Regions from separate parts of the Homo sapiens genome. Here all the other regions are linked to region 3. Evidence: fine-mapped expression QTL. A gene starts in region 3. Each other region holds a variant in brackets. All regions are shown on one strand. Distances are from middle to middle.

What was found. PIP is the estimated chance that this variant, and not a neighbour inherited with it, causes the effect. A credible set is the group of variants that fine-mapping cannot tell apart.
Region 1: its variant is the best candidate, but not a certain one, in a credible set for the expression of SFMBT2 in monocytes (Schmiedel 2018, PIP 0.87).
Region 2: its variant is the best candidate, but not a certain one, in a credible set for the expression of SFMBT2 in whole blood (INTERVAL, PIP 0.60).

What each region holds. Positions count from the first base shown.
Region 1 is chr10:7,178,759-7,181,598 of GRCh38, forward strand. The region is part of intron 16 of SFMBT2 (Scm like with four mbt domains 2); the gene reads right to left. Among named protein-coding and RNA genes, the nearest start is that of SNORD129, 6.6 kb to the right of the region's middle. The variant G/T (reference allele first, on the strand shown) is at 1,374.
Region 2 is chr10:7,499,113-7,501,612 of GRCh38, forward strand. No RefSeq gene overlaps it. Among named protein-coding and RNA genes, the nearest start is that of LINC02642, 28 kb to the left of the region's middle. The variant CT/C (reference allele first, on the strand shown) is at 1,071.
Region 3 is chr10:7,409,597-7,412,439 of GRCh38, forward strand. It overlaps SFMBT2 (Scm like with four mbt domains 2), which reads right to left and starts at 1,438. Exons shown (of 21, transcript NM_001387889.1): 1 at 1,265-1,438. RefSeq lists a silencer at 1,312-1,451 and enhancers at 1,687-2,607, 2,608-2,843.

The DNA of each region.
Region 1 (2,840 bases), 230 kb before region 3:
ATTAGGCACTACAGCCCTTATCCAAATATTTATGGGAATATGATATACATAATGCCTGGCTGAAAACACAAGCACTTGTAGGTTTCAATCACCTTTTGACAGATTTTTAACCCTATCATGGGGACAAAGTAATGGTCAGCTTCTCAACTGGCAACAGATCATAGGTTTTTATTTCGTTCACATATCACCAAACTACTGAAATATGAAATTCCAGCTTTTTAGGAATGTCTTTCTAAAGACTGGAAAAATACTTTTCCACTAATAAATCTTTTTTTTTTAAAGTATCAACGGCAAAAAAAATTAAGGATTAAATTCCAACTTGTACTTTTTATCTGCATACTCTACTAAATTTACTTCATATTTATTCAGGGTCTTTCATATCCCAGCCCCTGGGTGTTTGTTTTTCTTCAGTTTCTCTGATGGGTCGAGCTTGACTTTCCATGTAGTGAGAACTAGAAAGTAATCTTCTGTAGATAAGATCATGCTTTAAATCCTACAGCCTTGAATGGCTGTTGGTTTTTCTAGGCCCTCCATTGACCCTATGTGTAGAGACTTCCCTCTCCGTGCCTTTGAAGAGGGACTCCAGGACCCACGTTGGGGCGGTTCTTGCTTATTGCTTTTGTTGCATTTTCGAAAAAAAAAAAAAAAAAAAAAAAAACAAAAGAAACAGCACAACTGGGAACACCGTATGTTCCTCGTGTTGTGGGAAATGGAGAGTAAAAATGGGAAATGTAGAATAAAAGTGCTTCACGGCTACATTTTCCCTTGCAGTTTTATCCACTACGAGTTTGGTGGCCCCACAACTTTGTTGGAAAGAGCTCACTATCGAGATTCTTAGAGTCCCTAGAAAAATAAAATAATGAGACATAAGAACGCAGGAGAAATGTGCAAGCCAGGTCAGAGGACAAACTGCAGAACAAGGCTCAAAGATGAGACTGCTCATCAAACCTCCAGGTGACGAAGCACACACACGCGCTGCCACATCGGAGCGACGGATGAAGGGAGCGGTTATCTGGGGGAAACAGAACCAGGCTGGCTTAATTTTCTCTTCCTAGTTTGGGATGATTTCACGGAAACAAGTGTTTCAGTAAAAACTTTCACAATAGGGAAAAGCCCATCTAAAGGTATGAAGATTTAAGTTATAGCATCATTTAAAAACAGCGGGCTCCTTTTCTCTTCCCTGCCCTTCCTGAACAATTCTGTTTAGAAGCCATGGCAGTGAGGGGTAGAGGGGACTGAGTAAGGATAGGGCACGGGCTGGGGAAGCTGGCGGATGGCGTGCTGCCTGGACCCCTTCACTGGGGGGCTTGTTGCCCCACCTGCTGGGAGAAAGCCTTCAGTTGTGGCCCTTTTATTTAGGTTTGCTTTTTTTT[G/T]CTTTTTTTGAGACAGGGTCTCACTTAGTCATCCAGGCCAGAGTGCAATGGTGCAAGAGCTCAGCTCACTGCAACCTCTGCATCCTGGGTTCTAGCGATTCTCATGCCTCAGCCTCCTGAGTCACTGGGAATACAGGTGCCCACCACCACGCCTATAGTGGTAATTTTTTTTTTTTTTTGTATTTTTAGTAGAGATGGGGTTTTGCTATGTTGGCCAGGCTGGTCTTGAACTCCTGACCTCAAGTGATCTGCCCGCCTTGGCCTCCCAAAGTGCTGGGATTACAGGCGTGAGTCACTGTGCCCAGCCCCCTTTAGGGTTTTGCAAAAAGCTGCCTTGGCCCTGCCCTTCCCAGAAGGGCCCCATCCAGGGACTGACTGTGGAGGAGGTAAAAAGGTCACTGGGGCCCAACTCCGGACAGCCATGAAGAGCCTTTAACCCCAGAGCTGCTGCGGGTGCCTGCCTGGCCTCACTGTGGGATGATCTCTGTCTTCTCAATCCCACTGCCTTCCCCTCCCTTCCAAAGGCATTGGTCCCAAGGGCCCTCCTTGATGAAACCCATCTGGGAGGAACCCACCAGGGAAAAGGATGGAAGTGCGGGAGGGACGCAGGGGGGAGGCCGTCGCATGTGGGGACAGCTGTTGGGAGGGTGAGGATACTGGAGAGACGCTGGGGCCTGACGAAATAAATACATACTCCAAAGGTGGAGAGCACAGGCCAGGCTTCCACTGTCACAGCCGGAGTTGCAAGTATAGGGAAGGAAAAGGCTAGGATGAACCCTGGCATGCTGGACTGGAATTGGAGCCTACGTTCCACCACAAGCGCACAGAAAAGGGTGAACACAGCAGGCCTGAGCCACTCCCGTTAGAAAAGCCTGCTTACAGGCAGATCACGAGGTCAAGAGATTGGGACCATCCTGGCCAACATGGTGAAACCCCATCTCTCCTAAAAATACAAAAAACAGCTGGGCATGGTGGTGCACGCCTGTAGTCTCAGCTACTCAGGAGGCTGAGGCAGGAGAATCGCTGGAACCCAGGAGGCGGGGGTTGCAGTTAGCCGAGATTGTGCCACTGCATTCCAGCCTGGGTGACAAAGTGAGACTCCATTTCAAAAAAAAAAAAAAAAAAGTACAGGTACATCCCTAATCAGAAAATCTGAAATTCAAAATACTCCAAATTCTGAAATTTTTGAGTGTCAACATAATATAAGTATACTGCAAGTATTCCAAAAGCTGAAAAAAGATGAAATCCAAAACACTTCTGGTCCCAAGCAATTGGAATAAAGGATATTCAACATGTATTTGGGGGTGACGGGGCATCAGGCCTTCAACTTATCCCAAATCAATCAGGAGAATGAATAGTATCTTTATTCTGTACCTCCAATATTTCTGTAAGTATGAGATTGTTTCAAAAGCACTTAGAAATAATATAAAGGCATGTAGTCATATAATGACTCAAACTATACCAAGC
Region 2 (2,500 bases), 89 kb after region 3:
GGCTCACATCTGTAATCCCAAGCACTTTGCGAGGCCAACGCAGGAGGATAGGTTGAGGTCAGGAGTTCAAGACCAGCCTGGGCAACGTAGTGAGACTCCCATCTCTACAAAAATCTTAAAAATTAGCCAGACATGGTGACATGTACCTGTAATCCTAGCTACTCAGAAGGTGGAGGTAGGAGGATAGCTTGAACCCAGGAGTTTGAAGCTTCAGTGAGTTATGATTGTGCCACTATACTCCAGCCTGGGAGACAGAACAAGACCCCGTCAATAAAAATAAAATTATATAATTATAATAAATTAAACAATTAAGTTATAAAAAGTTTTTAAATAAAAATGTATAAAGATATAAAATAGAAATATAAAACATTTAAAATATAAATTATAAAAATATAATTATACAATTTATAATTAGTTTTAAATTATAAATTCAGTGGATGCATTAAATCAGTAAATAATTTTTAAAAAGTAATGCATCTCCAAAGTGTGATTTCAGTTTTGCTAATGCTGGGCCAAGATTTCAGCTTCTGCTCAGCTCGAATCCATATTTTCTCTGGGAAGTTACCCATTAGCCTCATTTATGATCTATCCTTGCTTCACAATGTTCTAAATTCCTCCTCCAGGGCAAGACCCTTCTCTTTGCAGCGCACAGTAAGGAGCTTCTAGCGCGAGCAAGAACAAGCTCCTGCACCATCGCTCAGCACTGCTTGTAGACCTCTCACTAGATCGTAAATTATTTAATGGCAGGAGTTATGTCATCTCTCAACTTTTTTTTTTTTTTTTTTTTTTTGAGACAGAGTCTCGCTCTGTCGCCCAGGCTGGAGTGCAGTGGCGGGATCTCGGCTCACTGCAAGGTCCGCCTCCCGGGTTCATGCCATTCTCCTGCCTCAGCCTCCCAAGTAGCTGGGACTACAGGCGCCCGCCACTACGCCCGGCTAAATTTTTGTATTTTTAGTAGAGACGGGGTTTCACCGTTTTAGCCGGGATGGTCTCGATCTCCTGACCTCGTGATCCGCCCGCCTCGGCCTCCCAAAGTGCTGGGATTACAGGCGTGAGCCACCGCGCCCGGC[CT/C]TTTTTTTTTTTTTTTTGAGATGGAGTCTTGCTCTGTTGTCCAGGCTGGAGTGCAGTGTCGTGATCTCGGCTTACTGCAACCTCCGCCTCCCGGGTTCAAGCGATTCTCCCTGCCTCAGCCTCCCGAGTAGCTGGGACTACAGGCGCAGGCCGCCATGTCTGGCTATTTTTTTTTTTTTTTTTAAGTGGGGACAGGGTTTCACCGTGTTAGCCAGGATGGTCTCGATCTCCTGACCTCGTGATCCACCCGCCTCAGCCTCCCAAAGTGCTGGGATTACAGGCGTGAGCCACCGCGCCCGGCCAGTCTCTTAATTTTTTTTAATGCCCCAGAGCAGCCAGCACGGTGCCCTGCACCTCAGGAAATGTGGAAACTGCTAGTCCGTACGTGGGCAGAACACACGCTCTCATCTCTCTACTGGAAAAAAGCCTCCGGGTGGGCAATGGGCTGTGGGCGGCTACCTGTGTCTGCTGGATAGGCCCATGAATCCGGGGTGCAGAGGGGTTGGCTGTGGAGCCAGTGTCCCGCCTCTCCCTGCGGTGCAGCAGGAGAACTCTCATGAAACGCTGCAGAATGGAAATAAGAATCGGCTGGGCACGGTGGCTCACACCTGTAATCTCAGCACTTTGGGAGGCCGAGGCAGGTGGATCACTTGAGGTCAGGAGTTCAAGATCAACCTGGCCAACATGGCAAAAACCTGTCTCTACTAAAAATACGAAAATTAGCCGGGTGTAGTGCCACACACCTGTAGTCCCAGCTACTCGGGAGGCTGAGGCAGGAGAATCACTTGAACCTGGGAGGCGGAGCTTGCAGTGAGCCGAGATTGCACCACTGCACTCCAGCCTGGGTGACAGAGCGAGACTCCATCTCAAAAAAAAAAAAAAAAAAAAAAAGAATCGCCCCACTCCAGATCAGAATCCTGGCTGCCTGAGAGGTAGCTTAGGGTTGCTACAGTCCACAAGGGTCAAGTTCTGGAGGAGGAGTGGAGTGGAGTCGGTGGAATGGAGTCACATCTGCATCTCCTTCCAGCCGGGCGCTGCCCACAGTGACCATTTGCCTCACTCTAGAGGCGCAGGCCACCGTGGAGCTGTGCTGGTGGACTGGCAGTGGTGTGCAGTTTCCTCAGCTGCACCTCTGCATCCCGCAGAGCAATGTCCCAGCCTTCACAGGCAGCTGCTTCTTCCCACCATCCCAGCACCGTGGCACTGTCCCAATGCAGTGCTCCCGCGGCTCAGGGGACTTGCGTCTTCTGACCACTTCCTGGCTGACTGTCACCTTCAACTCTTGATAAAGCAGCAGTTTCTATATCCTCCATCGTCTTGCCCACCAGCCATGATTTTCTGTTAGGTCTCACCTCAATTCCTGAGGAACCGACTATATAATGTGATTGAAGATGGGTCCCATCTATCTAAAGGTGATGCTTGGACCTTG
Region 3 (2,843 bases):
CCCTTTCCCCCCTAGCAATGGACTTGACACACAGACTCTAACCACGGAAAAAAAAAACCGGACAGCCCATTCCTTCTTTTTTTCCCCACTTAATTCGCTAAAGCGCTTCCTGGGGTAGCCAAAGAGAGTCGAAACTAAGGGGTGGAAACTTCAGCTGGGTTTTTTCCCACCTCAAAACCTTTATTTTCAGTTTTTAAAAGCCACCTTAGCCCGCCATATTGAAACTGGCACGGTTTCTAAAGACTCCTTCCCCGCAGTTGTGGCGCTTCCAAGAAAACACGAGTACGGATCAGGCTCTGGATGAGTGTCCGGCCACCGAGAATCAGCCACTTCCCACCCTCCAGGATCCCCCAGCTCCCTCCAGCCCCTTCCCACCGCCCCTGGTCAAAATCAATAAATACATCTCGCAGTTCCTACAGTTGCATTTTGGCGGATTTCTGCAAAACATACACACACATACACATACCCACGCACGCATATTAAAAAATAAACTCCAGAACCAGCTCAAGTCAGCAATTTTGAAAGGGGGTCGAATAAGAGGAGACAACCGGAAAGCCCCTAAGTGACAGGATATTACTTTAAAGAGAAAATAATGAACAAAAAGACCATCCTCGCTGGAGCACGCTCCAAAACTACTACTGCCAATTTTATTTCAGTTGCTCAGGCAAATGTTTCCAAGGGAGCGATTCCGAATGTCTGCACGATTTTTACCCCCATGCCGGTCTCCGATTCCCCGTCCTCACCATCTTTTTCTCCCACCCAAACCAAAAGAAAGGGGAGACCCCAGCGCGGAGGAGACGCGGGAGCGCGGGGTAGGTAGCAGCGGCGGCTGCGTCGCTAAAATGAGTGCAGAAACGAGGAAGGTGGGCGGCGGGAGGGGACAGGCTGCGCCCGGGGAAGGAGGACACTTTGCAACTCCGGACGGACTCCCGCACGGCTCGGCTTTTCCGAGCCCGGAGACGCAGGCGAAGGGGACCCGGGAAGCAAAAATGACAACCTGGAGCGCACAGAGGAGTTTGAAGCTTCGCTCAAGTGCAGTCGCTTTCTTCTCCTGCCCTTCTCTTTCGCTCCCCTGCACCCTCCCCAGCCTTCCCCCACCCGCCACCTCCAACCCCAGCTCCCTCAGGCTTCCTTCCTTTTTTTTTTTTTCCTTTTTTTTCCTAGGCTGGAAAAAGCCCCTGACCAGCGCACTCAACCTGCGGGCCGAAGGGCTGCTCTCCGGCCAGCCTGGGCGCCGGGGACAGCAGCCGGCGCGGCGTCCTACCTGGTGAAGTTCGTCCTGCCCTCGGCGTGGACCCAGGCCCCGGTCGCCGCCCGGGAGGGCACCGGCCTCGCTCGCTTGCTCGCTCGCCCGCCCTTGCCCGCTCGCTCCCCGCCCGCCGCCTCCCTCGCGCGCCCGCTCCGGTCCTCCGGCTCCCACTACAGCTCATTCCAATATGGCATCCTCTCTGTGCGCATGCTCGGCGCTCTTTTTTTTTTTTTTTTTTTTTTTTTTTTAAGATTTTGTGTGTGTGTGTATGTGTGTGCGTGCGCGTGCAGCGAACTCCTTCAACGACCTTTTCCAGCGCTTGCAAAATTTCTTAAGCCAATTAGCCTGCGGGACGTGATCGGCTCCTTCCCCAGCCAGCTCCGCGCCATTCCCTGCGCCTAAGCAGGCGGGCACCCCCAGGACCCTGGGACCTTCCACGCCCACGCGGCCTCCTCCCCACCGCGCTCCCCTTCCTCCTTTTTGTGAGCTCCCTCCATACATGATCTGCAGAAAGTTCCCATCGCGGGCGTTTCCGCACACCCCTCCGCAAGGACAACTGGGCAAACTCCCGTTTCCCTGGCTGCGGTTCGTGAGCTGGGTTTCCAATGGCTCAGTCGACCGTGTGCACAAACTTGCGCTTTATCCGCCGGGGATCGCTGGGAGCGGAGATAAATTCAATCCCCAGGGCAATCTTGGCCCCGCCCGCCCCACCCCATCCTGTGCTTAAATAGAGCCTTTCTTGAAGCTGCGAACATTTCCAGGCCCCTTGGGCAGGGCTGGAGGGGCCGAGGAGAGCTATTCGAGGGAAAGGTGCCCCGAGGGGCAGGAAATTAAGTTGGGGCTGCCCGGGCGAGCTGCCAGGTAGCCGTGCTCGCCACGGCGTCTCATGGGGCACCTAGCTAGTGGCGGGCCTCATAGGGCGGGAAAAGAATCGTCGCTCACACCCCAGCAAAACGTGGCCCTCGACGGTCCGTTGGAGAGCCCCGGCGGCCGTGAGCCCCGGGCAGGGCTGGACGTCTGCGGAGCCCTCGGGCACTTTGTCCCGGGCGCCTGGGGAGGAACGCGGAGCTCCCAGGGCCTTAGGTGCAACGGCTGCGCAGAGCCCAAACGAAATGTCCCCAGTGCGGAAAAGCCGGTGACGCCCTGGTAGCAAGACCAAGAGCTTCCGAAGAACGCTGCGCCCTTAACTAGGGGGCCTCGCAGAGATGCCTGTGTGGGCCTGCATTGTATATTTCTGCGAAATAGCGAATGGACACGTTTGCTCAGGGTTTTTATGGTTGCCAAAGGGGGTAAAATTACCCAGTCCCCCAAATCTGTGTCCCATGAATCCCTCTCATAGTACCCCTCTCCAGGGGGCCAAGAGGTCCTCCAGGTCCCCGTGGGTTCGCAGCTCCACCCGCCCTTCCTCGCCCTGCATCCCTAAGGAGAGGTGTCCGCTCTGAAGGGCTAGGGGCCAGCCATGGAGTGAGGGGACCGGGGCTGACCACGCGCGGCACAGACAGAGGTCCTCAGGCGGGCCCTCTCCTGGACGGTGGGGCCGGAGCTGATCTAGAAGAAATACGGAGGGACGTGCCGAGAAGCCGCTCTCCTTCGC